Regions from separate parts of the Homo sapiens genome. Here region 1 is linked to region 2. The links come from fine-mapping of genetic effects on gene expression. A gene starts in region 2. The other region holds a variant in brackets. All regions are shown on one strand. Distances are between the middles of the regions.

Region 1 (15,632 bases), 22 kb before region 2:
CCATGGCACACAGCAGGAGTGGGGCCTGTGAGGAACCTGCTGTGTGCCCAGCAGTGCTAAGAGCCTTACATGCTTGACCTGGAGGCAGTGGGCAGCAAGAAGCTGGGATGGACCAAGAGCCACACTGGCTGGGTCAATCCCAGCCGTGCCATGGTGCTCTCCTCTGCTTATCCAACTCTGAGCCAGGTTCACAGCAGCAGACACAGGCTGGGATCACACAGGTGGCAAGTGGCTGTGCAGGATGCCAGCCTGGGCAGTGCAACTGTGGGGTCCTTATGCTCCCCATGACACACCCCGGCCACCAACAGCCTCAACCGTGGCCACCTCCAGGTGTGTCATGGGGGTGTCAGCAGAAACGGTGCAGCCTTTGGGCGCCTGCTTCAGGGGGATCTTGGCTTTCTGCCTGTGAGAAGGAAGCAGTAGGGGCGGTAGTGTGTGGTTGTTAAGCACTCATGCTCTGCTGTTTGAGAGACCTGAATTCAAATCCTGCCTCCCTGTGTGGCCTCAGGCAAAGGTCTGGTCTCCCCATTTATACAGGGAAAGCACTGATAGCCCCTCCTTAATGGGGCATGCTGGGAAAACACCACTGTCTCGGCGTGCACAGCCTCATTTTCATCCTCCTTACTGGTGCCCTGATTCCCTGGACACATGTTCAGGGTCTGGGCTGCATCCAGCGTTCGAGTCCACAAGGAGCATGGGATCAGGGGTAAGGAGGACCAATCATAAACCCAGCTTGGTCACTTATCCTCTCTGGCTTCAGTTTCCCCATCTGTAAAGTGGGACTCAGGAGAGGCTTGCACCTGTCACAGCTCACCAGGCACAGGGCTCCACGCTAAGCCCTCCACATGTGTTTTCTCATTTAATTCTCACCATGACCCCACGAGCCAGCTATGGGCATGAGAGGTGGCCCCCACCTCCCATGGCTGTAGGGAAAAGAGCACGGGCAGAGCTTACAAGGGCTGGAGATGCAGTATAGGTGGCTCTATCACCATCCCGAAGACAGCGAGGCTGAACCCCCTGCCAGGCCTCCCCAGGACATAGTGGGGTCTGCAGGGCCAGCTTGAGGGTCCAAGCTCACTTGAGTGGGTGCCCCTTTTCCATCTTGCTTCCTCTTCACTCCTGCTTAATGTTGGGCAACATCAACCTCAAAAGCCTCGTTAAAAGACCAGGGCTGTTTAGGACAAATCGGTGGGCGGGGGGGGGGCCTGCAGGGTGGTGGGGGCTCCTTCCGTGTCTGTGGCCCTGAGGTGGCGTGTTCTGAGAGGCTGGACTGGGCAGCTCCCTAATGCAGCAGTTTCACAGTGGAAGCCAAATGAGCTCATCCTGGTTGAGCATTTAACACAGTCCCTGGCTCGTAGCACCCAAAACACATTGGTTATTTTTTAAAGATCCCTTCCGGTCCTAAATCGTATGACTCTGTGGCTTTGTATATGTGCATAGCATGAAGAAGGGACACCCAGGCGAGAAAGTGCTGAAGGCTTAGGATTAAGTGAGAGACCAATTAAGAAGTGAGTCTAGATGCTCCCTGGCCCCAGCTGCTTCGTTGCTAAGACATCTGTGGGAGTGTGATAAGATGGAGAAATTCACATTTATTCGAGCCCCTCTCAGGGTCAATTGTTTGTGGTTGTAAGGAATTCCAGGATAAATTACTTGAGCTGGAGATGAGGCCTCTTTCCTGAAGATGTGCCAAGACAACAGCACATACCACCTCAGACGTCTTCTAAGGAGGTACAGCCATGCCCCAAAGGGCTTTGGTTTGGCTGAGCAAGTTTGGGCTGAGCAGAATTGCCCAGGCCAAGGAAGGAGGCTGAAAATTCTGACAGCTGCCTTCTCCACCCTTAGTCTAAATTCATCCCATGCCTCCTGTGAATTCAGGATACATACTTAGGATGCCCAAGGGGCAATCTGCCTGGGGGGCACCCTCCCCTCAGTCTGTCTGAGATTCAGCCCCAAATTAAGAGACCCCTTTCTGTATGGAGAAAGATGGGAGAAAAGTAGGTTCCTTATGGTTAAAGTTCCACCAGCAGCAAGGAAACATCTCTTTTCTTTCCAGAAGAATCCACAGGGTAGAGAGTTCACTACCCTCTCCTGAAGTTGCCAAGGAGGGCACTGGGGCCACCTGGTGCATCCACAGTGTGTTCCCAGGAGTCCCTGCTCAAGGACAGGCTGAAAGGCACTGAGCTGGCGGTCAGGGCCTGGGACTCTGATCCAGCCCTGTGTGACCTTGGTAGGTCCCTCACCCCGTCAGGCCGCACCACAATAACATCACGTGATGCTCTCTAAGCTGTCACCCTCAGAGTGTATGCTCTGTGGACAGGGCCATGTCTGTCCAGTTCACCATTGTATCTTCATGTGTACAACTGTGCCTATATGTGGTAGGTGCACAATTAATATATGTTGGATCAGATTGAGTAAAATCAAAGATTTTATCCCCTTCCAGAGACAAGTGTCTGTTTTCCTTCTCTACCTGCCAGCCCTGAGAAATCGCACTCCTGTGCTCAGTGAATCCGCACCTACCTTTCCAGTCAGACCTGCTTCTTTACCTGGCCCATCGCAGGTATCTCCTACTGAGCTCGGAGGGCCACCTTGCCAGCTGATGGCCAGACACGGTCATTCCCACCGCCATCCCTTTCTCCGCGGCAGTCCTCCTGCCTGGTATGGCGTCTCTTCAGATCCTTTCCATTCTACAGCTCTCCACTGAACTCCATATTTCTGCAAGTCCTAAGCATTCCCCTTTCCCCACCACCCAATCCTTGCCCGTGTGTCCTTGTGTTGTAATGGAGATTGCTTTCCTAGACATGTGAACACTGCACACAATCAAATGATGAAAATATTTTAAAATGCTATTTTAAAATAATCACCTACTTTTTAAATCAGTTGCTGGTGTTAGCATAACTCTGTTCTCCATTGTGAACATTCACAGGGAGCCCACTGGTGTCCCAGCCAAAGCCCTTTTTGCGCAGCAGGGTGGCCTGCCTTGGGGGCTTCCATCTTTGGGTGGCAACCATTGTCTGAAAGCTTTGAAATGCAACGGTGAAATGCAGCTATCTTTTTTTGCCCCGCTGAGCTTTAGATGTTTCGGAGTCAGGACATCACAGCCAGGGTGTGGGGTGAGCTAGCCTCTGCCTGATCATTCCTTCCAGGAACAGAGGTTCCCCGAGTACCACAGTTGTTGCTCGCTTCACAGGCCACAGGACTGGACTTTGCAGCGTGTGCACCACCCCTCCCCCACACCACCCAGTGGCCCTGGCTACTGCCCCAACCACTCCTCCCCAGGCTGCTCAGCCAGGCCTGTTCTCAGAGGGAGTCAGGTTCCCAGAAAGAGACTTGCCTCGGGAAAATGCAGGGTTGGGGAGGGGGGCAAAGCAGAATTGTCAAGGGGGCAGCCCCCCTTGAATGCATGCCACCCCCTCATTTTCACATGGACCCCTCGGCCCTGCCCAGCCAGCTTCCCTGGTGTTCCCCACTCAGGATGGTGCTGAGATCCACTTGCTGGCAGAAGCCAAACATCTAGGGGTCATCTTTGGTTTTTCTTCCCCTCACCCCCAACACCCCATCCATCTCCAAGTCTGTCGGCTCAACCCCAAATGTGGCCTGAATCTGACCCCTTTCCACCCCCCGCGCCCCCTTCTCTCCCCTGAAGCCTCTCTTCCCTGGGATGGAGACCCCTCTGCTGCCTCCCATTCCTCTCCCGCACGTCGTGTCTACACCACTCGCCTATGCCAGTGGTTCTCGAACTGGAGCATGCACTAGAACCTCCCGGGCCCACCTCAAGACCCACAGAATCGAGCTCTGGGGGTGGGCCACCCAAATCACTCTTTCAGACAAATTCCCAGGTGCTGCTGCTGTCGCTGGGGAAGAACCACAGCTGAAGAACCGCTGGTCTGCATGAAACCCCTGCCTACTTCAAATCATAGTCAGGACCAAATATAAACGGTGCTGCAGGCAGGGGGGTCAACACACAGACTCGGAGCCACCATGGAGCTCAAGTCCCAGCTCTGTCATTTCCTGTGTGTCCTGGAGCAAATGACTTAACGTCTCTGTACCTCGGTTTGATTTTCTTCTCTGCAATGGGAGCAATGATAGTGCCTCCTCTCTGGGATCACTGTGAGGACTAAATGAGCTAATTCTGTGTCTCAGACTGGGTTGTCCCAGGAGCAGACCAGGAGACAAGAACATGAGCGATCCCAGGAAGCCCTAGCAGAGGAGGAGGGAAAGTGAGCCAGGGAAGGGGAAGGCAGACAGCAACACAGGGCACCTTAGCCGGTAAGTTATCCCTGTGGGCTCAACTTTTCTTGGGAACTTTGGGAGCCAGTGAAGAGTGCACAATTAATAACCCTGAGATCAAGTTTATTCCAGCCGGGAGGTGAGGGAGCCAAAGTATTTATCCACCCATCTTGGCAGAGATTGATTGCAGGATGCTTCTAGCCAGGGACTGTGTGAACAGCCTGCCGGTGCATGGGAAGAGCAGCTACAGTGGTCTGAGAAAGTCTCCAAGCCCAGGAAGTGACAGGTGTTTGCTGCTGGTCACCACTGGGTGAATGGTGAGGGCACACAAGTTGGTACCAAAAATATCAGTTACAACATGCAAAGCACTGGGTAAGAGCCTGTGTAGTACCCGCTCTTCTTACAATTCCCTGACCAGGGTCCCCATGGTCTGATCCCCTCACCAAAAATCCTTCAAGAGCGGCCCCTCCCATTCCAGCCTCCCCATCCCCTGACCTGCCTGGGCCACCCCCAGCCTAGAGCTTTTGCACCGGCTCTTCCCTCTGCCTGGGGCACCGTTCCCAGCTCTCATAGCCCTCAGTACCCCCTTCCTCACTTCTCAACCTCACCTCCCCTGATCAGAGCGTACTTTCCCATCTCTTCTCTCTGAAGCCACCCTACCAGTCACTTTCAATTCCATCTCCCCTTTGACTCCCTGCCTAGCACTTTGTAATCTCCATGTCTGTTTCTCTGTCTGGTGGCTCATGGTCTATCTCCACCTACTAGTCTGTTTCACTCCAGGATTCCACAAGCTGTAGTGTTTACTACCCTGTCCCCAGCATTTAGCAAGCATATTGTGAACACTCATTGAGTGAATGAAGAAATGGATGGATGGATGGATGGATGGATGGATGGATGGATGGATGGGCATGACTGACAGTCAGAGGCAGCAGTGTCATCTAAGGAGCACAGGTCCAGGATCTGGTACCTCAAGACTTGAATCCTAGCTCATTCCTTCCCCTCACATCCCTCTGACCCTCAGACCCACACCTGTCACTCCAGGGGCATGAGTGATCCCCTGACCTTGGGAGTTGGGCAGATTAGCCTCAACAGTGCAAGTGGGAGCTCCTTCTATAATAATTGAAGAAACTCATGGAACCCACTTATTTGAGAACAGCCTGGGCAGAACCAACATCTGTTCCCTTTTCCATCCTGGGCAGTCTCAGAGCCTAGAGGACTGGTTAGGGTTCAGTGTGGTGCGTGGAGCAGAGACTCAGGGGCAGCATGGCTTAAATGAAACAGAAGATGACTTCACCTTCATGTAACAGAAGCCCAGCTCAGCGTGGTCAGGCAACTTCTAGAAGTCACCAAAGACCAGACCCCTTCTACCGTGTTGACCCTCCATCCTCAACACAGAGCTTCTGCCTCATTGTCCAAGGCAGCTGCTTGTGCTCCAGCCATCATGTCCCACCTTCAGTCATCAGGAAAAAGGAAGGGATAAGCAGGGTTTTGCTTCTTCCTGTAAGGACACTTCCTGAAAGACTTCACACAAGACTTCTACTTACATCTTACTGGCCAGCACTTGGTCACACTCCCATATGACCAGGAGCTAAAAGTCAGGGGCCTTGTTAGCAAAGAATATGGGGAGAATGAATGGTGTGGTGCAGCCGGCAGCCTTGCCTTGGGAACCTTTCCAATGAGCCATTTGATTGCTCTATGATTCGTCTGCTCTGCGCCAGGGCCTGGAGCCACAGCAGGGAGCAAGTTCAGGAACCCCCCACCTTGAGGGGCCCACATGCCAGTGGGGGACAGTGAAGAGGACAAGTCAATACGCACGCAGTCACGATGCTTGCTAGGCCAAGTCCTGTGGGGAACACGGCAGAGGGGTAAGAAAGAGCATCGGAAGAGCAGGGGTGAGAGCCTACCCTAGCGCAGGGAGACAGCGAGGGCCCTTCTGAAGAGGTGACATTGGGACAGAGGCTCGAGGGATGAGAAGGGGCCACTGAGCATTTCAAGGACTAGGAAGTGCCTTGCGTACCCCAGGTCAGCTGCGGGTGGGCTGTGTACCCCTGGGCAAGTCACTGGGCCTCTCTGAGCCACAGTTTTCTCAGCTATGCAATGTGAGCAGCAGCCGTGCTCTCACCGGGTTGTGGGGTAGAAGGCTTTTTTGTGAGAATGTGTGTCTCCATGAAGAAATGAGGCTCAGAGAGCCTGAGAACCCTGCACTACATCAGTAGATCTCAGCTGGGGTAGATTTTGCCTGCCAGGGGTCACGTGCCAATGTCTGGAGACATTTCTGATCGTCGCAACTGGGGAGGGGGCTGCTGCTGCTGACATCTAGTGGACAGAGATGGCGGTGAGACTGAACATTCTCTAGTGCACAGAGCAGCCCCCACACTGGAGAAGCACACAGCCCCTCATGACAGCAGTGCCGAGGCGGAGGAACCCTGCCCTCCACAGCCAGGAGGTAGACACAGGGCCATTCACCGGAAGCCCACTCTTCACTGTGTTCCAGAGCCCCCACCCCAGACCCCTCAGCCTGTGCCCTTGGCAATAGGATCTGTCTGCTTTTTAAACAAACATCTCCAATGACTCAGACATCCACTGAAGTTTAAGGAGAACTAAACTTCTTTGTTTATCAAGTACCAGGCACGTAGTAGCCACCACCTCCCACCAAACCAAAATCCATTACAAGTTTAAAGTACAGCTATTATTTTTACAGCATTGCTTAGAAATGGCTTGCGATCTCTAATTTGCTAAATTGATGCGTATATTGACTAAATAAATATTCGGCACGAAGCCCGAGTTCCCCTCCACACTTATTAATCCTCAGGAAATGGAAACACAGGACACAAAATGAGCTTTCGCTCAGAGCTGCAGACAGGAATACATTATGTTGTTTTTCAAGCGTTCGGGGACTTGACTTTGCAGCAGAGACGGCCCAATCACCAGCCTCCAAGTTTTCCATGACGCACGCCTCTGCCCAGGAGACGTGCCTGTGTTGCTGAGGT[C/T]CCTTCTTGGACTTTAGAAGTCTAGGAAAAGAAACTTTTACTTCAACGGGGGGAATCTGAGGTGACTGTTTTTTGGGGAGTTGTTTTGAGGGGAGTTGATGGATGACAGCAATATTCGTACATAGAAATCAGGGCTGCTGGCAGGACCTACAAAGTGAAGACCCTGGGACAGGTCCCTTTCTTCAACAACTGGGGCTATTAGTGCTCTCGGCTCTGGGGAGAGAAGGCAGGGCTACCTGGACTGGGTGGGGGGCACTGTGTCTTCTGTCACCAGCCTGCCCCGGATGGAACAGCATACGAAGGGACTAGAGTACATGGGACAAGATTTGCTCTAGCTTGTCCCACCTGCGGAGACTTTGACCTCTGGGATGTTGATGAGTCCTGGGGGCTGGTCTTGTACCAGGATGGACAGGGGCTCCAGATACCAGGGGAACCCTAGTGGTGCTGGCCACCTCTGTCCTGTGTTAACTTCTAAAGCCTCCTGATCCCACGGAACACTTGTCTGTGGTGGGGGCTAATGGCAGTGAAGCAATATGGCCCAGAATTAGGAAAGAAGTTCATGCTGAGTTGGGAAATGGGGAAATGTTCTCCAAAAGAGGAAGAGGCACGAGTGTGCTTTTTGCCCTACTGGGGGAGTGTGAATCCCAAGAGGAGCTGGCATTTCACATCATCTAGCCTCTGCCCAAGGCCAGCCCAGAGCTTCCTTCCCAGACAAGATGCCAGGCCACTCCGGAAGAGAGGATGATTCCACAGGCTTGAGATGAAGGCTGGTCTCCTCTCTGCCCCCGACCTGTGGCATGACCTTGGGCAGTTCCAGTGACCTTGCTGGGCCTCAGTTTCCTGGTCTGAAGGATGAGGTTCGTGATGGGACCCCCCTGGTGACCGTGCCCAGCACCTAGCCCACAGCAAGCTCATCACTCTCAGAGGCAGCAGCCATTCCTTCTACCTGGACACAGCTGCCAACAGAAGGGGCTGGAGAATGGAATCCAGGCAGAAGGAACAGCCAGGACAAAGGTCCTGGGTGGGACCTGATCCCAGGCAGTAGATCAGAGCATGGTTAGCAGGTAGGATGGTGGCCTGGGGTGGCAGCAGAGAGGTGGCCAGGGTCAGATGACACTGGGCCTCGTGACCACCGGAAGGAGAGTGCATTGCATCCTGAGAGCAGTGGGCAGCCATGGGAAGGTTCTTAAAAAGGCAGCTCTGGGTCCCAGCCTCGGCAGCCCCAGGAACACGCGGCAGCCCGGTGGGGAGGGCAGATCGTGGGGACTCGGCTCCTGAACTCAGCCACAAAGATGAGCTGCCTTCCCCAAGGGCTCGTGAGAGGACAGCAAAGGCTGTGTCCCAGGACCAGTGGAGACTTGGTGAATTGAGAAAAGGTGGGGGGGGGCGGTCTCCTGGTGAGATGCCACTGCACTCACCTGAACAGGTGTCATAAACACCGCTGGCAAGGATGAGGACAGAGCGCCAGAACTCTCATCCGCTGCTGGCAGGAATGCAGAGGCACAGTCACTTGGAAATCTGTCTGGCAGTTCCTTAAAACGGTAAAGCCTATGTCTGCCTTGGGACCCAGCCCTTGCACTCACAGGTGTTTACCTGAAACAAAAGCACCCAGAAAAACCCTTGCAGGAATTCACAGCAGCCTCTCAGAATAGGCAAAAGTGGAAATAGCCCAGGTGGCCATGAAGGGTGGAATGGCCCATACCATGGCGGCAGACCCTTGCCATGGGGGACGGCGCAGCAGAGCAGGACAGGGAGCTGCTCCCAGCTCAGCCACGCAGAGAAAGCTGAGCAAAACAGGCAGACAAGTCCACGCCCTCCACAGAAGTCCACATGCTCCAGTGAGAGGAAGAAGAGCAGTGGCTGCGTAGGGCTCAGGATGGGGGGTGAGCAGGGAAGAGTACAAGGGAACTTTCTGGGGTGATGATGGGGCGTTCTAGACCTTGATCTGGGTGGTGATTATACACAGTTGTCCAAACTCCTCCCATGTTCCACTTAAGACCTGTGCATTTTACTGCAAGTAAATGATGCCTCAATAAAACATAATCCTCAACATGGGGTCCGCGTTTGGGTCTGGGGTCCACGATCTGCTCTCCTCCCTCTTCTGAGCTGCCCAGATTTCCCAGGCAGATGCTGAAGTTATGAGCAAGTGCGGTGCCTCATTCCAGGGCCGAGGGCTTCTGAGGCCACCACGCCTGCCTTCCTGCCCACATCCATCTTGTTATTGTCGGAGCCGGGGAATTGCTCCTGAGGCGGAATCTTGAATATTCATTTGATTTACGGCCTGCTGCCGACAGCTTTATGAATCCGCCCACCAATACCTGCAGCCGGTCATCAATCTTCCCTGGAGATTGTGCTTCTGCCAGTAACTCATGAATTAAAGAGGCCCCTGACGGCCCCCACGCCTGCCTCCCCTCCCATGCTGGAGCGTCGTGATGGAAGGAGGACCTGACCAGAAGTCAGAACATTGTTGTTTTGCCGCCGCGGCAGCTCTGATGACCTTGGGTGACTCTCTTTGTCTGCAGGAGGAGGAGAAACTCAGAAGCCCTCAGATCTGCCTCCTCCCAGCCCCGAGCCTCAGTTTCCCCATCCATAGAGATGCAGGGCACAGCACCACCTCCCTCTGCTTAACTGGGCCGGGGGCCAAGGCAGGACGGACTGCCAGCTTATACGAATGTGGGATGCCTGCCACTATTGTTATGATTATCTGACTTGGAGATGTTCGAAGGGACAAGAAAGATGGTGGTGCTCACGGCTCATTCCCCATGGTTGTCTCATTGACAGCATGGGAATGAAGACAGCATTTCCCTCGGGCTTTCAGGGGAGACCATGGGAGGGGGCTCAGCACAGCCCCTGGCACCTGGGGCAAACTCCATAGGGAGTACATATTCAGATTTTGCTCCAGGAAGGAGAAGTGGGGCAGGCTTTCGCTCTGGCCTTGGGAAGCAGCTCCAAAGTGTTTCCAGAGCTGACTCCTGGGCAAGTACCCCTGGCAGAAAACCATAGCATGTGCGGTGGCCTCAGAAGCCCTTGGTCCCAGTTGGACTGTGTCTGGCTTTCCCGTGAGTCCCCCAGCCCCTGCTGTGGAGACGGCACTCAGTAGATGCTCCAGGGTTGGTCCCAGTTGGACTGTGTCTGGCTTTCCCGTGAGTCCCCCAGCCCCTGCGGTGGAGACGGCACTCAGTAGATGCTCCAGGATTGGTCCCAGTTGGACTGTGTCTGGCTTTCCCGTGAGTCCCCCAGCCCCTGCGGTGGAGACGGCACTCAGTAGATGCTCCAGGGTTGAGCCAGCCTTTACCAACCGGTAGACACTGGTAACATCTGCAAAGCAGTTGGGGCCAGCAGATGGAGAGAGTGGTGGAGGCAGTGCCTCTGGGCTCAGACACATTGGGGTTCAAATCCCACTCTGTTCCTTAGGATCCCAGTGACCTTGGCTATCTTGGCCCCCTAAGCCCGGTGAGCAGGACACAGGTGATGGCTGCCTTAGAGGGTAGACTGGGCTCGGAGAGGCAGCCTGTTGGAAATGCCTTCTCTGCTGGTACACAGGAGCCCTTGGGAGGGTCAGCTCCAGTGGGTGTCACCAGGCAGTGTTCTGGGCACCAGAGTCAGAGGAGGTAAGGACAAGACAGCTCCTGCTCCTCGGGGGTTCACTCAACAAATGTTCATTAGATGGATGACAAAGAGCTCTTAACACTTGTCCCCGGGTTTTGCCTGTGAAGAGAGTTGTGAAGGACACATGCAGGGGAACCCCCTCCCAGGGACTAGCTCCCACCCATCCCTCAGCAAGGTGGCAGCCTCTCCCGGGATTGCAGTTTGCCACAGTGGTGGAGGAGCTGTCAGGCCTCAGGGTGCCCTTCCTGGGGCTGAATGACAGCAGATCGATCCTCGCTTCTCCTGGCTCTTCAGCCTCCCGCAAAGTGCAGCCGCAGCCCTTCAGCCAGCATGCAGCAGTGGGACTCCTCTGCCCAACAAACTTTTCCCTGCAGAATTCCACTACACACAGGAGACAAGTACTGCACGGAGCCCACATTTATTGAGTGCCGAGAGTATCCAAAGCACTTGGTGTACACCCCTTCTGTGAGTCTTCTCAACCCTGTAAGTAGGAAGAGGGAGTTGAGACACAGAGAGGTTAAGGGACTCACTCAGGGTCACACAGCTCAGAAGTGCCTGGCTGACAGCGGAGCCCACTTATCACCCCTAGGCCCACTGCAGTCTGGCTCCAGCTGCTGCCTGCTGATATCAGGGTTCGAGATGAGACTTCTCTCCCTGAAACTAACCATGTGACCTGGGGAGAGTTACTTTGCCACTATGAACCTCAGTCTCCTTCTCTGCAAAGTGAGAAGACTGAGACCCGCCCCCAGTTGGGATGTTGACTGAATTGACTATGAGGAAGCACCTGAAGCCCCAGCGCAGTGCAGTGCTGGGCCATGGGGTGCTCAGCTGCACACCCCTCTCTCCCCTTCCCCACCCCTTTGATGTGAACCTGGACTCCCTGTGCATGGGGAGTCACGGCCAGAAAGAAGGAGGCCAAAGTTTACTGGAAGAAAGGCCTCAGCTTCTGGGAACGGCACTTCCCAGGGGGGCCCGGTTTCTGATCCATGGACTTTTCACCTTGGCACCAGCAACCTGACCACGCTGGCAGTGTTTACCCCGTGGGAAGAGGAAAGGCCTAGGTATGTGCAGAAGGGTGTGCTAGGGCAGGTCAGAGCCAGGGCATTTGGACCTGGGTCACTGACAGCCCCTGGCCCCTGGAGCCTGAGACACAGGTCCCTTTCCCAGTGCTTCAGCCAAGCTCTCTGTCCCCACCCTCCTTCACATCTTGTTCTCCAGGCTCAAAGATGCAGAGATAGATGATGATAAAAGCCACTGCCCCTCTCCTAGGAATTTGCACCCAGGGTATAGACAAGAGTTAAAATCCAAGCTCTCACCTTTGCTAGCTGTGAGAACCTCTCTACTGCCTCATTTCTGGAATGGGGCACATTCCAGAAGTCACAGTGTTGAGGGAAGGATCTAAAGAGATTGTGCCTGGAAAGGCCTTGACATACCTTATCTCTCAGTGAGTGGGAGATGTTGTCACTATAATTATGGATGCTTAGGAAATGTTTACTTACTAGATGGATGGGCAGGAGATGAACTGATAGACGGTCGGATGGAGGATGGATGATGAATAGATGATGGATGGATGGACGTGTAGGTGGGTGGCTGCATAGATAAGTAAATGGAGATAGGTGGACAGATGGATAGTAGCTATGCACTCATCCACTATCCATCTGTCTATTCTCCACCCACTCATTCACCCCTCCCATTATTCATCCATCCATCCACCCATCCATCCATCCATCCTTCCATTCATTGATATGCCCATCCATCCAGCTGTGTATGTGGGGAGAGTGGGTAGATGGATGAACAGGTGAACAGATAGATGGATGAGTGGATAAACAAATACATAGGTGGATGGCTGGCTTGGTGGGTGGATAGACGGTGGGTGGATAGATGTTCAGATGGACAGATGAATGAACAGATAGAGAGATGAATGAATGGACAGATGGATTGCTGGATGGCTGGGACCACAAACTAATTGCCTCCTTCCTGAAAGTGACAGAAAACAATTGCTGAAGCTCTCTCCCGATACCACATACATTAACCTGGCTGCAGGGGGCCAGAACACTGCAGCCCTTCCCAATCTGCTCATTAACTGACTCATGGAGCTTTCACCTATTCAAAACCAACAGGGTAGCAGCGTGACATTTCAGATTTCCTTTCCTTGGCCTTTCACTGAGCATGGCTCACAGCTGTTTGCTGGTCTGCCTTCTCCAAAGGTGCCTTCAAGGCCCTCACATGCAGTAATGGATGCAGCTTCCCCCAGAGCTAAGGGGGTTGTGTGCCCTAAAAGGTTGGGGGCTCCTTCCCTCCGGCTGCCTTGCCACATTCTCTCTGCAGCAGTGCCACCAATTACCTTAATTACCTTTCAGTTAGGGGCTTAATTTACAACATGGTGGCAAGGAAGTATTGAAGAGAGAGTTTCCTTGGCAACCCAAGTTTTTAAACATAAGATTCTCCATGTTTTAAAAGCCACTTCTCATCTAATTTCCTCCCTGAAAATTAGCTTGGGACTTTTCAAATACTGGAAATTTTAGCCTAACGGCAGGGTAGCACTTACATCTGAAACCATCAAAGACCTCAATTTCTCCCCTGCCAGAGGCAAGACCCTGGGAAGGTGTTTGGTTTCCTCTGCCCCTTTGTTCTGAAATGGCCATTAAGAAATGACCATGGGGAAACTTTTTCTGAGCTCCAAACCATCAATCAGTCAAACTCTTGACAACAGCCTGTTTTCTAGACTTGTGTTGTTCAAGTTCCTTGTTGGCTGGAGTTTTAGCCATGAGCACTTGATTGATGGCAGACTGCAGAATAGCTAGAGGGTTAGGGCCTGTACTCCATGGCGTCTCTGGCCCCCATATCCCCAAGTTGAGAAGAACAGCACTGATAACCACCCCCAGTGCAGAGGGCATACAATACCAGAGGAGCTTTTGGAAAAGGCCACTCTCCCTGGGGGCTCGCTCATCATCCACAAGCTTCTCTACCTCCCTGTCTAACAAAATCAACCCTTGCTCAGTTACACGGCATGGTTTTTCATAATCTGCCCTAGCATGGGAGGGGGCCACACTACCTTTCTTCTGTTCCCACTTCCACACCCTTTAATCTGACCAAACCTCTCATCCATCCTTTCAACCTCCAGCCGTCTACACAGCATCTACCTCTCTACTCACCCTCTGTTGATTCTCCAACCACTCTACCTCCATCCACCCAATCCTCACGCAGATCCCATAATCCGCTGGAATGCCTACAGTTTTCCAGTTATATCTTGACTTTCCAAATATGATGTTATTTTATGAGAGTACTCAAACACTGCTTCCTCTGAGGAGCTTTCCCTGATGCTCCTTCTCCTTCCTCTGAAACTTTGAAACAACCTGTCTACACCTCTCAGGACACCTAGCTTGTCTGCTATGTCTGGGTGCAGTTATTTGTATCCTGAGGGCATGTGGAAAAACCAGGCAGGGCTAATTCAAACTCGGCTCTCACAGATGGGGAGCTATGTGTCCTTAGTGATAAGATGAAAGGATGGATTGAGGATGGATGCAGGGTTGATCATTGATGGACTGGATGGAGATCAGATGAGTGACTTATTGGAGGTTGATGGACCATTAGATGGATGTACAGATGGATGACAAGCATCCAGAGGCATAGATAGTTGGAGAATATGAGAAAGAATAATTAAATGGAAGAGTAAAGGCTGGAACAATGAATACAAGGGTGGATGAATGGATGGAAGGAAGGAAGGATGGATGGATGGATAGATGGACAGAAGGATGGATGACTGGATGGATGAAAGGAAGGAAGAAAGGAAGGAAGGAAGGAAGGAAGGAAGGAAGGAAGGAAGGAAGGGGGGAGGTGGAATGCAAATGCACCTTCCCTCACTGCCCAGGCAGAATTCCAAAATGTGAGGGGATGGAACAGGAGACTGACCATCAGGCAGTTCTGAATGGGGCAGAATAGTAACGTAGATTCTCCTTAGAGAAAATATTACTCCTTATACCTTGAGGCTTGAAGTTTTTCAGTGACCCTGGGAAAAGGACAGGGCCCCCTGTGGGACCAATTCATTAGGAAAGACAGTCCTGATCAGCTCATCTAAGCACTTGGGCTGACTCTAAGTGCCAGGCAGTCAGAAGCTGTTCGATAACTATTCATTGGAAAGTGACAGATTGATCTTGGAGAATTGCCATTCTAGGGAGGCATCCGCCAGCTGGGAACAGAACAAAAATGTCACTCCTCAAAGCACATTCTCTCATGCTCAGCAACACGAAAAGTTGACCCTGCTGTTACCAGCACAGACTTGAATCAGTAGTTGTTCTCCACACTTATGCAGTGACTGTAACCCCCATGTTAGAGGGGCCCCAGGGACCATCACTTCACTGATAGAACCCATACCCATGGTGCAAGGAGGTCTGACCTCTTCTGACACATCTCAGGGCAGGACATGAAGGACATGAGGTTGCATCAGGTGAACCCACCGAAAGTTGAGTTATATGTAACCCAGTTCCTGGGAGTCAGTTTGTCCATGAGGCCAGGAAGACCCAGTAGAAAGAGAACCCCTGTTCCCACAGCCCGAGTTGTTGGGGAGTTGAGTGACACAGGAAGTCTGTTCTAAACCAAGTTAGAAGGACATCTGGACCCAGTCCCTTTCCAGGAAGGAAACTCTCACTAGCAGCTGATCGCAGACAAACTCCGAGGCCAAAGGAAGGTGGAAACACCTTCACCTTTCCTCCTGAATCCCCATCCCAGCCTGCAAGGCTTGACTCAGAACAGCTGTGTCTCTCAGCTGTGCGCTCTCATCTGGGCTCTGAGAGGAGAGGTGCAACG
Region 2 (15,632 bases):
GGGCTTAGCTTACATACTTTGCATCATCTGAAGGCACGACAAGAGAACATTGAAGAAAGAAGTCATAGGATCCTGTTTATTGTAGACAGGGGTCCGCGCACAAAAATCAGGATTTGGAGACAGAGGGAGCACTCAGGAGGCATGGTTTGGGGAAACTGAGTCAGGAGTTAATGACATATATTGAATCTTTTTGGTCTCCTGAAAACTCTTATGCTGTGTATGTAAGTCACCTCCTCTAGGCTGTCCCCCAGGCTTGCAGGGCCTGCTGGCAAATGGTCCTATGTGAGACTGCTTGCCAGGTGGCTGATGCTGTGCAGGAGGGGAGGGAATTTGGAGATGGCCAGTGTCTTTGCCTGCCGAGGGAGTGGAGACTACTGAAAGCCCGTAATAGGACAGTGGGGCACAAGGCATGCATTTTAACAAAGTTTATCCTGGTGGCCTCTTTCAGGGGTCCAAGGAGCTGCCCAAAGGCCCCCAAGGGGCGGGGAAATGGAGACCAGGTGGCTTGCACTTTGGACTCCCTCCCCAGCTTCAGGTGGGCTGCCTTGGGCTCTGTCTCCTTTAGACATGGGACTCTGAGTCAAGTACATGTCAAGAACGTGTTCCGCAGTGAAAAGGAGAAACAAGTTTGAACGCCACTGATTTAAACTAATACAGCAGATAGCATTTAATTCCAGTAAGTGGTTTTTCCCCTTCGGTGGTTTTGATATTCTAACAAGCCAACGTGTCTGGAGCTAAGACTCTCAGCTCCTTAATGGGGAAGGAAATCCTGGCAATTTCTCAGCCCCGCTGGACGCTCCTAGCTTGACCTCAGTTTCCTCACCTGTAAAATTGGGGTGATCTCAGCTTCACCTTCCATATGAAGCCATTGTAAGGAGCAGAGGAAGTGAGGAAAAGAGGCAAGTTTTCCAGTTGAGGAGACTGGAGGGGTGGAGTGTGACATAAGAACAAGCCTGCCCGCTGGGGTGTGGTAGGGGTGAAGCCAATTTCACAGCCTGGGCCCAAGAAAGAAACTACAACTTGAAGATAATAGTATTTACACAGATTGAATCTGTGATATAAAGTTTATGGTTCGTTTGGACTGTTCTGGAATATCCAATAAACACTGGGAGTAGAGGAGAGCAGGTGAGGGTTCAAGGCAGAGCTGGGGACCAAACCACCCACCTCTCTTCTCGGGCAGCCCATGGTGTTGGCATGATGTCCGGGATACAGAAGGCGCTCAATTAATGCTTGCTCAACCCAGATCCTGTCCCCTTTTCCTTCTCACTTGTCTTCCTCTGCTCCCCCGCGGGGATGACAGTTGAGAAAACTGTTGCTTTGAAGAGTTAAAAGGCAAAATCCTATGAAACTGTCCACAATGTAATTTTTGTGGAAGCCTGAGACCCCTCCAGATCCAAACTGTCAAAAAGCATGCATTAAACCCTCCCAGTCCTGCCACATAAGCCTCACCATCTAAAGGTTTGTAGAATTGTTAAAGGATGCCAACTAGTGGCTTCAGCAAATTCAGAAAACCCCAACCATGGTTCCCTGCCTCATTCCTCCCCATCTGCTCCCTCCTTCTCCCTGGGACCAGGCAATGCACCCCCTCTTCAAGTGTGATTCTGAACGTCCCCACCTTCTTGGGGAGGGGGCAGGATTTAAATCACAAGATATTTAATCAGAGTTCTCTCCTCTTGGTAGCTCAAATAAGAAAAACCAAGCAAAGCAAATCCATCTTTTCTATAAAACTTCATTTTGTAATTTTTTTCCAAGAAGTAGTAAGGGGGAAATATTGCAATTATGTAAAGGTAAGGAACAATGGTGTATAAAAATAATTTAAGCACAATATTAATAACAAAGCAACTTTTTTTCAAGGAAAACTAGTAGGTCATCTTGCCCAAGATTTTTCCAAAGGTATTAAATATATTTTCAATAACAGTACATACAAATACACATACACAAATATACCACACAGACACATGTGCACATACATGCACACACACACACACACACACACACACACACACACATATATATATACAGCTCAAGTATTTTTTTGGTGTGCATTCTAGCTAATCCACATAGCTAAAGTGAAAAAACACTGAAAAGATCAATGCCTGAGTAACCTTAAATTTGAACAAACTATGCATTGGATGTGAATTTTTGGAGGCATGCTAAGATTTCCCTTCTCAATTTCATTAGCTACTACCCAGTGTTCTGTGGTTCTTATCCTTAAAAAAATCAAAGTGTGCCTTTCAGATCTGCTCACGGTGTGGTGATGATTATTATGGTGGCGTCAATTTGGGAACACTTGCCCTCTCTTGCTCCTACTGCACCTTATGGATGGGAAAGGGAATGATTTTAAAGGTAAAGCACTCAGGCCCTGATTACATCTGGCTTATTCTTTGCTTCAAGGCAAGGATCTCTCTCTCGATTTCACAGGGGAGGTCGGCATTGACTTGATCCTCCAGATACTTCTCGATGTCTTCCACCTCCTTCTCCCAGAATTCCTTGGAGATGCTGAAAAGCTCCATCATGTTGATGTGCCCCAGGCCTTTCAGGTTCAGGGCATCCTCCTTGGGGATGTAGCCTATGGGCGTGAGCTTGGTGCTGGCTTTTCCATCGATCCGGTTGAACATCCACTCCAGCACCCTGGAGTTCTCTCCAAAGCCTGGCCAGAGGAATTTGCCTTCCTTGTCCTTCCGGAACCAGTTGACATGGAAGATCTTGGGCAGTTTGGCTGCTGGGTGCTGGGCCATGCTAAGCCAGTGGGCCAGGTATTTGCCGAAGTTGTAGCCAAAGAAGGGCCGCATGGCAAAGGGGTCATGCATGATGATTTTGCCTGTTAAACAGAGAGGGAGTTCATTAGTAAATGAGGCTCTCCTAGGCAAGACTGACGCCATTGATTGTTGACATTAGCATGCTTTGTTCTCCTCTCTCTCTTTCTCTCTCTCTCTCTCCCCACACACAGACACAGAAAAGGAGAGAGACATAAGAGTGACGAAGAGTGCTCTAATCCCACTTCTCTGTGGTTTCAGATCAGGACTTTGATTTACCTTTATGTTCTGCAGCCGCTGTGGCCTCTGATCTCATGGCCGCCCCCACAAAGACTCCATGTTGCCAGCTGAGAGCTTCATAGACTAGAGGGACACCTTTAGCAGGAAAAAAAAAGAGAAATGTTCATCAGAGGCTTTGAAATTCAGACTCCACAACCAGTGGTGTTATTCACAACACGGAAAGACACGGCAAGACAATAACTTTGTAATCGAGCTAGTTTTGCGTTCACCAAGCTAAATTGCAGAAAACTGCTAACTCAAAGTTACATGACTGAGGCCACAAAGTAAAAAGTAAAATTTGATCAAGCTACAATAGATCAGGGATTCAGAAAGGTTCCAGGTGACCAGAAGGGTTGGTTCTACATTTGAACTTGCCAATTATTCTGGATCTTTGGGAAGGAAGCTCAAGAAAGGAAGCCCCTGGGCACCCTCTGACAAGGTCATGGAAAAGGAGAGATTTCACAGATGCCCTTCGGTACCCAGCACACCCATGTTCCCAGCCTAAATGAAGGAGAGCCTCACCAGCAGGTCTACGGCCTCCAAAGATAATGCCTTCAATGGGAACACCTTCCGGAGACTCCCAGGCAGCATCAATGATGGGGCACTGGCTGGCAGGGGTGCAGAACCTCGAGTTGGGGTGGGCACAAGGTTCCCCTATAAGACAGAGAAAGGCTCGTGAGTGCCTGGCTCAAACAGGCAGTCCCTGCAGCCCGGCACACCAAGGCCTCTGGCAGGGACACACCATCCTCTGAGCTCCACTCCTTATTCTTCCAGGACGTGATGGTGACACCTGAAGCTAGCGGCTCATCAATGCCTTCCCAGTAAACGCCCCCGTCGCTGGTCTCGGCCACATTGGTAAAGATTGTGTTCTTCTGGATGGTCTTGATGGCATTGGGGTTGGTCTTCACTGAAGTCCCAGGAGCGACACCGAAAAAGCCATTTTCTGGGTTGATGGCCCTTAAATGACCTGGAGAGTTTTAAACCAGAGAAGCAGTAGTGAGTGCCAGGCAAAGCAGAACATATACTCTTATATATTGCCGGACTAATTTCTATGCCAACTTCTCAAATCTTTTTTCCCTCCCTAGAATATGCATTTATCTCTTTTCATCCAAGCATCATATGCAACTTTGATACGTTTACGACTCTTGCTTCCTCCACAATTTTCCACCAATACCATTTAAACAAATGTATGTATGTAAACAAACAGCAACATATGGCCCAGTTTCAATCCAGATTGAATATTAAGTTGAAGAATTCTTACAGGATCCATATTTCTAAGGCTTGGCCAACTCTGGACTAACAGAGTTTAAAAATCCAAACACTGGACTGAGGAGAATGTGACATGTTTCGAAGGCCAACGATTCGCTTGAGTCCAATCGTTACCAAGAGTTGGGTCTAAAAGAGTCACCTTGTGCGTCAAACTTCATCCAGGCAATGTCATCCCCGACGCACTCAACCTTCCACCCGGGGAGGCTGGGGTTCATCATGGCCAGGTTGGTCTTCCCGCAGGCGCTGGGAAATGCGGCCGCCAGGTACTTCTTCTCACCCTCAGGGTTGGTTATACCCAGAATCTGTTGGGGACAAGATTCTTTATTGTGATCTTTGTTTCCTTCTCCCCGAGGTTGGTACTTCAGCCCAGAGGTTGGAATGTAGGCCCTCAAGATCTATTTCTTCAGGTATCAGTGCAAACAAACACTCCCAGAATCATGAAGTCCAAAGGATCTCTATGGTCCCCTGGTGTTTGGGGGCCTTCAAAAGCGATGTATATGTGTAAACTAATCATTACTGGTGGGGTTTCCCGATCTGTCCGGGAACCTGCACGCTCAGAGAGGTGTGCTGACGGGTGGGAACTGTAATGCTGTTTGTTTCTGCCACCCCCCAGGCCTCTCATCTGCACATCAGGGCTTCCTGCAGGCTCACCAGCATGTGCTCTGCCAGCCACCCTTCCTCCTTGGCCAGCCGGCTGGCCATCCTGAGAGCAAAGCACTTCTTCCCGAGCAGCGAGTTCCCGCCGTACCCACTGCCAAAGGAGATGATCTCTCTGCGGTCAGGCAGGTGGGCGATGAGCGTCAGCTCCGGGTTGCAGGGCCAGTTGTTGACCAAAGGCTCTGTGAACAAGGACCCCTCCCAAGTCAGTGCGCCAGGGCCCTGCTTGGGGGTCCCCGAGGCACTCACTGGGGTTTGCGTTCAGCTTTCTTTTTTATTTTGACTTTTGATTCTGAAATAATACACTTACTTTGTAAAGGCAGAGGGCACCCCACAGAATGGAGGCATTTGACAAACTCCCCATCGCCCACTGCTTCCAGGACGGGCGTGCCCATCCGCGTCATGATCCGCATGCTGGCCACCACGTAGGGTGAATCCGTCAGCTCGATGCCGATCTTTGACAGAGGCGAGCCCAGCGGCCCCATGCTGAATGGGATGACGTACATGGTGCGACCTACAGGGTGCGATGGGTGGGCACTGGTGAGAAATGACCTTGGACTTCGAACACGACCAGCATTTTTTTCCCAGGTAGACCCATTTTCACGGTGTTCCACTAACACCACCACACCCTGCTGGTCACCAGCCCCCTGGGTTAGAAGAGGCCACTGGAAAGTGAACAGCCTGCTGAAATTAAAGAGTTTTCATAAATGTGCAATTGGGTCCCACCAAGCTATTTAAAACCCATATGCATGGAACTAGTTTTCACGTTTGTATAAGACAGTCTGTAAAAGCAGAAGAGGGATGTGCATTTTCAATACATTGCCAACTTCATGTATGGAACTGAAAGACATCTGAGGTGGTGGGAGCTTCCATTATTGTTTGAATTACCATTAGGATAGATGTAAATAAGAAAAGGCTCTCTGCTGTTTTACCCAATCAAATCAATGTTCCGCTCACCTTTCATGCACCCTGGGAACCTGGCATTGAACGCTTTCTCAAAATCCTCCTCTGACATCCAGCGACCGAGCTGGCTGAGGCCTGTTTTGGGGATGGGCACTGTGTCTCTTTGCTCTTGGGTGACGATAACCGTCTTGCTTTCGATCCTGGCCACATCCCTGGGGTCAGTGAGAGCCAACCAGCTGCAAAAATCACAGGCTTCCTTTCAGCCAAGCACCACGGGCAGCGAACCATCTCCTTCAGTACCGTGGCTTTCCATGCCTAGCAGAGTGCTGAGCACGCTAACAACAGTCCATCAGTGTGAACACACAGACCATCTAAGACATGGCCAGGTGGACATTTACTCCACTAGGACCTGGTCTGTAGGAGAGGGGCTGCCTTTTTTTTAATCAGGAATCTAGTTGGCAGAGCTTTTGTGCACACACCTCATTTAAAGCTTGGGCTGGCCCACTAATGTCACAAAATTCAAGTCTGTATGGTTCTGACCATTGCATTCATCTTCTCAAGAGTCTGAAACTACCCGAAGGCCTTCATTCACCTTTCTCCACCAACTCCCAGGAGACGCAGGGGAGCCCTGCCTGCAGGGTGCTGGGACAGGCAGCGGGGGCCGAGCTTACCAGTTGTCATACTTCTTCAGCCGCCTGAGGATGCCCTCTTCCTCCATCTGGCCCAGAAGCCGCCCATTCTCCTCCTCAGAGCCGTCACAGATGTGGATGTGATCAGGCTGACACAGCTCAGCGTTATTCTCGAGAAACTCCCTCACTGCCTGGGGTAGGCTGTCCAGGCTTCCCTGGACAACTTTGGCCGAGAGGTTCAGGCCGTTTTGCAGCTGAGGAGGCATTTCTGCAGAGTGCTGCTAAGGGGCACGAATGTGAGGTCACCTGAAATAGAAAACGCAAGCGTCCTGAACAAAAACAACAACAGACACCTTCAAACACATTCGACGGCCTTTTGCCAGGGCTGTGCATTGCCAAATAGTTATTGCTCTCAGGAAAAAAATGAGTTCATCTTTGTAATTTTTCAAAATGTAAATGCAAAGCTCTACTTACCTTTCTTCTCTTTGGATGATCTCGAAGGGAGATCCACAGGTTTCTTTCCGGGCTCTTCCCGCCAGCAAGTTTGTGTTCCCAGTGGGAAGGCCGTGCTTGGTGGCAGAACCTCCCAGCTTTAAATACTGTGGAAAAGAATAGCCCTGCCCCTCAGCTGCACCCAGGGAGGCTCGCCACTGACGTCAGGGGGCAGGTCTCTGGATCACGGCCAGGGTCAGTTATGCTTTGGGCCAACTCACTGCAACACGCCCCAGGGAGATAATCATTGAACAGATAGTTGTTAATGAATGCTGGGAGACTTCGAGCCCTCAACCAACCATAGTGAGTTTTGACACAACTTCCAACTGACTAAACCTTGACCCATTTTACTGCTGTTGCAAAACACAACACCCTTTTCTTAACAGGCAGGTGGGTCAAGGACAAGGTTGGCCGGGGCACCTGCTAGCAGCACATTTTGTGTACCAAGAGCTGCTGGTTGGCAAAACACCACAGCTATAAGATGTCACCCCATAGTCAAAGGTCACAGTCAAAGTTCATGGGAAGGATGCACCCTAACTTGGGCAAATATGTGGCTTATTGGCAAAGATTGGAAATGCCTAACCTAACTGGGGGCTAATCACTGTATTGATTGTCTGCTCTGTGCCGCCCCCGCCCCCTGCCCCGATGTAAACTCCATGAGGGCAGGGATTTCTCCCTATTTTGTTCATTTTTCTCTCTGTAGTGCTTGGCATAGAGTAGGCACAGGATGCACACATGCTGAGCACTGTTCTAAGAGCTTGGCATCATTACTACCCTCTGAGGTGGAGGCTATGAACAACCCATGTACAGATAGGGAAACTGAGGCAGAGATTGTGTAGCCACTCACAGCCGGCTGGTGGGTTGCAGAGTGAGGATCTGAACATGAGCAAGTTGGGCCCTGGAGCACCACGTCTCTCCCTGTGAGGTACCGCCACCTTTCCAGAACCTTCCCTGTGTCCTCCAGGGAGTTCTGGGCTGAGTGCAGTTACTCCTGCAGTCCACTGGCCACTGTTCTCTTCCCTGGCAAGTCTTAGAGTTTAGGGAGTGGAGGGGGCTTGGCAGTTTTGCTAGATTATATGCTTAAGCAATGAAACCTTTATAACAGTTGTAAAGAATTTGCTTTGCAAGCCATCAGACCTTCAGTCAAATTTAATGAGCTATGGAAGCTGCTTGCTGGAGTTTGGAGAACACAGGGTGAAATGTCAAAAGAACGGGGCTAGGTCTCAACCCCCCACAGCCAGCCCACACTTCCATGGAAGCCTCTCTACCTAAGATGAGGTCAGGTGGGGACTTGGCCCATCTCCCCGCTGGGGTGTGGGATGATCCCTGAGATAATCCCAGGACTGGGCTTAGAAAGAGCTGCTGTGGCAAATACAAGTCACTGTGAATGGCAGCCTCCGACCAAACTCACTTAGAGAACCCTCCTGGGGGCTTGGGTCACACTGTGTTGGGCGTGGGTCACACATCATCAAGTTCCACCAAAATTATCAACCCATTGCTATGTTTCCTGTATTCAGATTTTATTCAGCCAGTTGTGTCTTTCAGGATAAATATGATATGAGGTGCTTTTTGTTTCATTTGAAGTTATTCCCCGTTTAGGTCACTGGCATTTGTTATTAGTGGTGCTGTCATCCATACATAAGATCGTGTTGTGTCTAAACCCAACAGTGACGTGATGCTCAGTAGCCGAGGCCACTTCGTTAGCATCTGACATCAGTGAATTAGCCATCCCGATGCATGACCACAATTCCGTGACACACACATCACTCCCGGCGAGACTCATCCCACCAAATTGGTAGAAAGTCCCATTTTGCTGATAAAACGGTAACAGGTTTGAGTACCTGAAAGAGCACATAGATTGAAAACAAAAAGGGAAAGCAGAACTCATTTGGAGTCCTAAATGCGACCCATCCATTCCAGGTGCTTATGTTCTGAGTCTTCTGGGAGAGAAACAGCTAGTTCAAGTAAAACGTCAGAGCAGTGAGTCACCAACGACCTTCATCCGATCCTTTCATTACCTGCATTTACAGCGTGGAAGGACGGTAATGATTCCCCCGCAACTGTCCCTTGTCAAAATGTTAAAAAGCAAACATTGGTTTACAGACTTGCCTCAAAGGACAGAGTTCTCTGGAAGAAGAATCATGATAAAGTAGAGGGGTTTTGAGGACACACAGGCAAAAGTATGGGTACAGTTGCCTTAGGTCTTGGCAGATGATGCCCTCGGGCCCCCATTTTTCCTGTCCTTAGAGACTCCCTGCCCCAGTGGGGACTCATTGACAACAATTTCAAGGGGCTGGCCGGAAGCATGGGTCTTCCTCATCTGACTGTCAGCTTATTTGTAAGTAAGCCTCAAAACTAACTACTGTCTGTTGGTTTCAACAGGGACCCGAAGAAGCAGCCAAACAGCCACCCTGCTGGTGGGATCCCTGAGGACCCCCAGTTAACCCGCCGAGTGGACTTTGCAGTGTGTGCTCAGTGGGTGGGGCATGGAGGTGGCTCACGCTGCCTGTGAGTTGCGTTAGTTGTTTCTGGGACGGATGCCATAGAGACCTCCTAGCTTTTGGGGAGCTCCTTAGGCTCAGATTTTCTTAGGTCCAAGGCTGCTCTTCTTTTGAAAAATGTATAAAAAGTTGAGCCCAGATACAAAATTGGGGAAAGAAGGAGAAAGAAAGATCGGACACTAAAATAGTTTCAAACTAAAAGGGACTTCCTCCCTGCACCTTCCTGGGGCCACTCCATGTTTTGCAGTTACTCAGGGATATCGATTGCTTTTTCCCTGCTTTGTGACCACACCAGCTATATCCTGATACGAGATAATTAGACGGATTTAAAAAGGTAAAGAGAAGTTTTGCATCCAATTTGCTGCAATCTCATATTCTCTAGGAAGCCTCAGCTCAAACGTTTATTAAATGCTTGCTATGTCTCTAGCACCGGGCATAATAATCTTCATAATACTGGGCTTTCTCTGCATGCCAGAAATGGGATGCATTCCATGATTTTCTCCGATGTAGGTACCTTTGTTATCTTTCCCATTTTATAGATGAGGAAACTGAGGGTCTCAACCCAGCTGGGTATAGACGAGGGTCGAGAAAGGAATCATATTCATTCCTTCAACAGTGAATGAGCAGCTACTATTGCCAGTTCTCTAGATGTGTCCTCAAACTGAGAGTCCTTTTCCTGTCTATACTCCCAGCACATAGTCATCAAGCACTTGCTGAGCACCTACTTCATACTGATCCTAGGGTCCACTTCATAGTCTCAAGAGCATGCCTCACTCTTGGAAGGGGGCTCTTCTCTTGGAGTTTCATGCTCTGGGGTCACTGTCTTGAAATTCATAGTGATCTTCTAAGTTTGTGTCACTTCTACATTTGAAGGGATGATGGGGCACGCGGCGTGGCTCTTGTACAGTTCTGCCTCCCTCAGCCTTTCTGCTTCTAAGGATGGAGCCTCAGCTGCCCGCTCCCCTGTCTCTTCCTGCTAGGTGACCACTGCTGCCCTCCACCCCGACTAGGGTCTGAGCACAAGGGCAGGGAAGTCAGGTCAGAGTTGTGCGCCCATGAGGGTCTGCACTCATTCCCATGAGCATCCCCTGCCCAAGGGAGCGCAACATCAAACAGCAAATGCAAAACATGCCACAACAGATAGAGAGACCATGGGAGAAAGGAACACAGGTTTTTTTTTTTTTTGTCCTTTTTGAACAAGGGGCCCTGTGTATTTTGCACGTGGTCCCACAAGTTATGGAGCTATCTTGCCTAAGAAACAATTTCCTCAAAGACTTAAGATGGAGTTGGGGAGACCCCCACCCTGATGTTAGAGTATTTGGTTTATCATCAGACCTACATGATGGTCCAATTAAAGAAGTTGTACATGGCCAAGTGCCACATAGACAGTTCCAGTGGGAGAGCCAGGGCCACTGTCTGCTATCTAAAATGTAATCAAGACATTGGTACAGTGCTTTGCAGTTAGTGAGAACGTTCCTCGAACTGCTCATACAAGGCCCCTGCAGGAGGGGGCCAGACAGTCATGGCAGACCCAAGGAAGCAAGGGGAGTTCCAAACACAAGTCCTCTGGGTCCCCCAGGCCAGGGTGCGCCTGTCCACCACACTTAGTCTACTGAGCATGTGTTGGGGAAGAAGTGGTCAGTGACAGGGCCACCTCTCAGGTGTCATTTTGCACCTGTGATGGACTGTAGCCCAATTTCTCCCAGCAGCCTACCATGAAGGGTTCTGGAAGAGTGGGTGAACTGGACTTTGACGAGCCTGTAGAATGCCATGCAGGATGGAGCAGTGACAAAGACAGCAGAAAACACGCGCAGGGACAGCCAAGATGCAGCAGGTGTGACCGGGGAGGTGGGTGTGGGGAATGGCTGCATTCCAGATGAACAACAGAAAACAAAGCCATGACTTTGGCGGGGTCTCACAGTGGAGGATTCAGAGGACAGTCTGATTGCAACACATGTTGGTGTTTCTTGGTTACCTGGAGGCCAATAAAAGAACAGAAATTCTGGGCCGGGTGCGGAGGCTCACGTCTGTAATCCCAGGACTATGGGAGGCTGAGGCAGGCGGATCACCTGAGGTCAGGAATTTGAGACCAGCCTGACCAACACGGAGAAACCCCATCTCTACTAAAAATACAAACAATTAGCCTGGCATGGTGGCGCATGCCTGTAATCCCAGCTATTCAGGAGGCTGAGGCAGGAGAATCACTGGAACCCGGGAGGCAGAGGTTGTGGTGAGCCGAGATCTCACCACTGCATTCCAGCCTGGGTGACAGAGTGAGACTCCATCTCAAAAAAAAAAAACAAACACACACTCTCAACAGCAGTGCTTGGAGGTCATGTAAAGTCAAGGTCCGTGTTTTCCCAACTGGGCTCTAAGGGATTTAGGGGGATTCCACTCACCCCTCACAGAGGAGAGAGAAAGGCTGTAGGAGACGGGCTCTAAGCCCTCCTCACCCATGGCATCTCTGATTTGACCTGTTGTACATTTCCGGCTTCCATATTGGATGTTTGTGGTATAAGGAATTTCACAGCTGGAACATGTTGAAAATCCACACAGCACAACCAAGTTGTGCTGAAGAGTTGAGAACCAGAGACGGCAAAGACACCATTTTCCCAAGCTAAGGCTCTCACACACACAGCCACAACCTCCTCACTTCACCCCAGCCACCAACGGCAGTGACGGGAACACCGAAGGGATGACCACAAAAATGCCCCTTGGTTCAGGAATCTGAATTTGTAGGAAAGCCTGACTCTTATCTGGCAAAGAAAAAAAGGGACAGTGGTTTTCCTGAAGGTGACGAGAAACACACAGTGTAAATCCCATGTCCTGGGACGAAAGGTATTTACGCAAATCTGCCTGGGTCTCTGTTGCCAGGGATACTACTCACTGGGCACCCGACTGGCCCCATCATGAAGCTTCTGACAGCAGGAAAACACCAGTCAGCCCTGTAACGATCAGCCACAAAGTCATCCACCAGGGCGATTCAGGTCATCCACCCCACCTCAATTGTGTTTGTTAGGGACAAATATTTAGAAGTTTCATGTTTGTGGGATTATCTCAATGTCTTTGCAGTCTGGAGGGTGTCTTTACAGAGCTGAATGAGTCAAGTGCCTATTCTGATGCCATAGAATCATATAATTAAAAAGGTCCTTAAAAGATGACGTCACTCCAGCTCAATGGGTTGGGGGATCTCCTCTGGGAGAAATGTTTTGGATCTAGACAGAGGGGCATTACACAACATTGTCAATGTAGTAAATGCCACTAAATTTGCACCTGAAAATGGTTAATTTTTTGTTGTGTGAATTTCATCTCAATTTTTAAAAAAGATTATATCGTTCAGTCTTTTATTTTGAAGATGTGGGAACAAGTAGTGGGAGGATGGTATCCAAAGCCCACTCAGGGTGCAGGCAGGTCCCTAACACACCGATCACCCTGCCCAGACTTCAACCTAATCATTCCCGCTTCGCTACATGGCCTGTGCTGTCGTAAGGCAGTGAGCTCAGGGCTGAATGTACCCAGCAGAGAAAATTCATATCCTCAAAAACTCTCTCCCCAGAAGTTTTGTGATTTTGTTTGTTCATGTATTTTTTCCCACAATAAGGAAATAAAAATGTATCTAGACTTACACCACTTTGCTTGGTGCCTGTTATTAAAGCATGATTCTTGCTGCAAACATGTGCCCAGAAGACATGTTAAATATCCAGGTGTTAGAACCTTTGGGAGGGCTGGGTGTCTCCTGTTTCAATCACCACTGACCCACAGCAAAGTGACTGTAAAAGCTGGCGTATTTTCTTTGGAGCTTTCTCTGTCAGGTTTATGGGGAGGCCTAATGGCGCCCCAGCCATGAGAAACCATGCACGTGCCACAGCCCAACATTGCACGCCACCTCCATCCCAGGAAGGATCTCGCCCTTCAGAGAGCGATGTCACCCCCCTGTGATGCTGACCATTCACTTACATGAAGGCTGCAGCCCAGGGCAATAATAGGAGAATCACCCTCAGAAACAGGACAAGCAGATTCTAGAGCTACTCTCCTGTGTCTGGCACTAGTCTTCTGGGGACTTCTTAGAATGTGAGATAGAAGCATCCCTTGTCGTTTAAGCTGCGTGGAGTTGGGTGACCTTGTTGTTTGCAGCTAAAAGCATCCTAATGAAGACAAGATCCCATAGTCAGTTTACACGGAACAAGACTCAGGAGACCTGGGTTGGTTCCAGTCCCACCTCCCCCAGAAACCTGCCCAGGCCTCATTCTCCTCACTTGGGCAGTGCAGACTTGGATGAGATACGCTCTAAGGTCATTGCCACTGGGGAAGTCCTGTCCCTTTATCACACTGTACGCATTCCCTGCCACAGATCCTGAAGCCCATGGTGGGTTTGATGTCTGCCTTACTCCCCTCTCACCTACGCTGGATGACTGGTGGCCCTGTGTCTGCTAAGCAGCCCTTCTTGTTGGAAGCTCAGGAGGTCTTTGCTCCTATGCAGCATGCGCATATGAAAATGGGCTACTGAAGAAAGCTGGCGGGTAATTTAAGTCCACAGCTACCTTAGGTGGAAAAGGATGACTAAGGAGGATAAGACGAAATGCAGTGTAAAACTCAGGCTTGCCCCCATTTTTTATAGGCCTGCCTTAGTTCTCTCCTTCAGTTTGCATGTCATAGAGCATATCCAGATTTTTATTAAAATCTTTCCCCATTCCTATTTTTTCCCAACCTTTGTTTGCTTATGACTTTTAGAGTTGAGGGCACTAGGTGGCTACATGTAGTCTTTTAAAATGTGTGCACCATCTGTGTTAGACTCCAGAAGGACCGACGGAAGATCTGGCACACAAACAGATGGCTCCATCATGACATTGCTGGGAACGAGGTGTCCTTTGGGCAGCTCACTAGGCTTTGGTTTCAGTTTCCTCCTCCCTAAAACGGACATGGCCCTGGGGATCCACAGTGCCCTTGATTTCAAGTATTACAGAGTAAGCAAGTCCATTCTCTGAGTGAGAACAAATTTGCCACTGAATACTATTTCAAACACACTCACGGAGAAAAGACAGCAGCACCAGGCAAGGCATGAGCAGGAAGAACTAATTGCATAGTTACCACAAAAACAATCCAATGCGCTTATTTTGCAGTGAGAAAATGGATCCACTTTGCAGTGCAGTTAACTCTATTGGAAATAAAGATAATTGCTTGAGAACTGAACGCTACCCTTCCCCGGAGCTCCCTGGTAACTATGCAAATTGTTCCCCTTGCCTGTAATAGTGCAGCGCGGAACAAAAATGTCTTTTCTGATCCACGCTGGGGACAATTCCAAAAATTCAGTAAATCTGAGTCTCCCTGTCAGCTCCTCTACCAAGGAGGGCAGAATTCACATGTGTCAAGGCTTGGGCGATTGGACACATCACCCAGGGTGGGGGTCCGGCCTCAGCATGTCTTGTCAGGGTCACGGGCCTCTATCTTAGCTATAGAAACCTGAAATGTTTCCAAGTTGAAATATAGTGGAAATTGAGCACCCTCAGGACTGCTGTTCGTATAACCTGGTGCAGAAGTAAAGTCCATCCTCCTGCACACAGAAAACACGATTTGTCTGAAAAATGACCACAGAGTCTGATGAAAAAAGGTGCCAGTTGACAAGTGTCCTTCCCAAAACTAGCCTACATTGCTTTGAAGAAGCAACCTAGAAAGATCAATGGTAACGGGGAAAGAAATGTACATTTTGGTGTTTTCAATATTTAAAAAGCAAAATTGTGACGCAGATGAAAAATCTGCTATGGGATAACAGAATCACAAGCCAACACAGATAGGGAGGACTCATCTTCTCAATAAGTTGGTGGTGTTTCAAACAGGAACCTGGGAAGCAGGGTTCAGGGGCACCTGCACGTTCTCGTATAAGGTAAGGTCCGTAATTCTTTAACTTTCATTTCCATGGCTTTCCACCTTCCAATTTTCTGCCAAAAGCCGGCCTAGGTTATACAAGTTTTCTTTCCCTGGCTTGGCACAAGGAAGCAATGATGCAAGAGGCCTCTTTCCAAATCCCTCGCTGCCTATCGGGAGCTGACATGGCAGGGCCAGCAGGGTGAGGACATGGCTGTCTGTTGCAGGGGCTGGCCTCAGCTCCCAGGCCTTTGGAGCTCTCTCTTTAAGTACCAGAGTCAAGT

Direction of the effects. Positions count from the first base shown, and alleles are read on the strand shown. Sizes are in standard deviations (SD) of each study's normalised expression.
With allele T in place of C in region 1, the expression in tibial artery of the gene that starts at base 7,061 in region 2 is lower (small effect, 0.21 SD a copy in GTEx).

The links.
Region 1: its variant is fine-mapped to the expression of PCK1 in tibial artery (GTEx, PIP above 0.99).

What each region holds. Positions count from the first base shown.
Region 1 is chr20:57,574,079-57,589,710 of GRCh38, reverse strand. No RefSeq gene overlaps it. Among named protein-coding and RNA genes, the nearest start is that of PCK1, 21 kb to the right of the region's middle. RefSeq lists an enhancer at 3,084-3,378. The variant C/T (reference allele first, on the strand shown) is at 7,218.
Region 2 is chr20:57,552,539-57,568,170 of GRCh38, reverse strand. It overlaps PCK1 (phosphoenolpyruvate carboxykinase 1), which reads right to left and starts at 7,061. Exons shown (of 10, transcript NM_002591.4): 1 at 6,968-7,061; 2 at 6,536-6,799; 3 at 5,919-6,100; 4 at 5,272-5,475; 5 at 4,956-5,143; 6 at 4,444-4,606; 7 at 3,778-4,002; 8 at 3,558-3,689; 9 at 3,036-3,131; 10 at 50-2,821. The coding sequence starts at 6,759. The coding sequence ends at 2,367.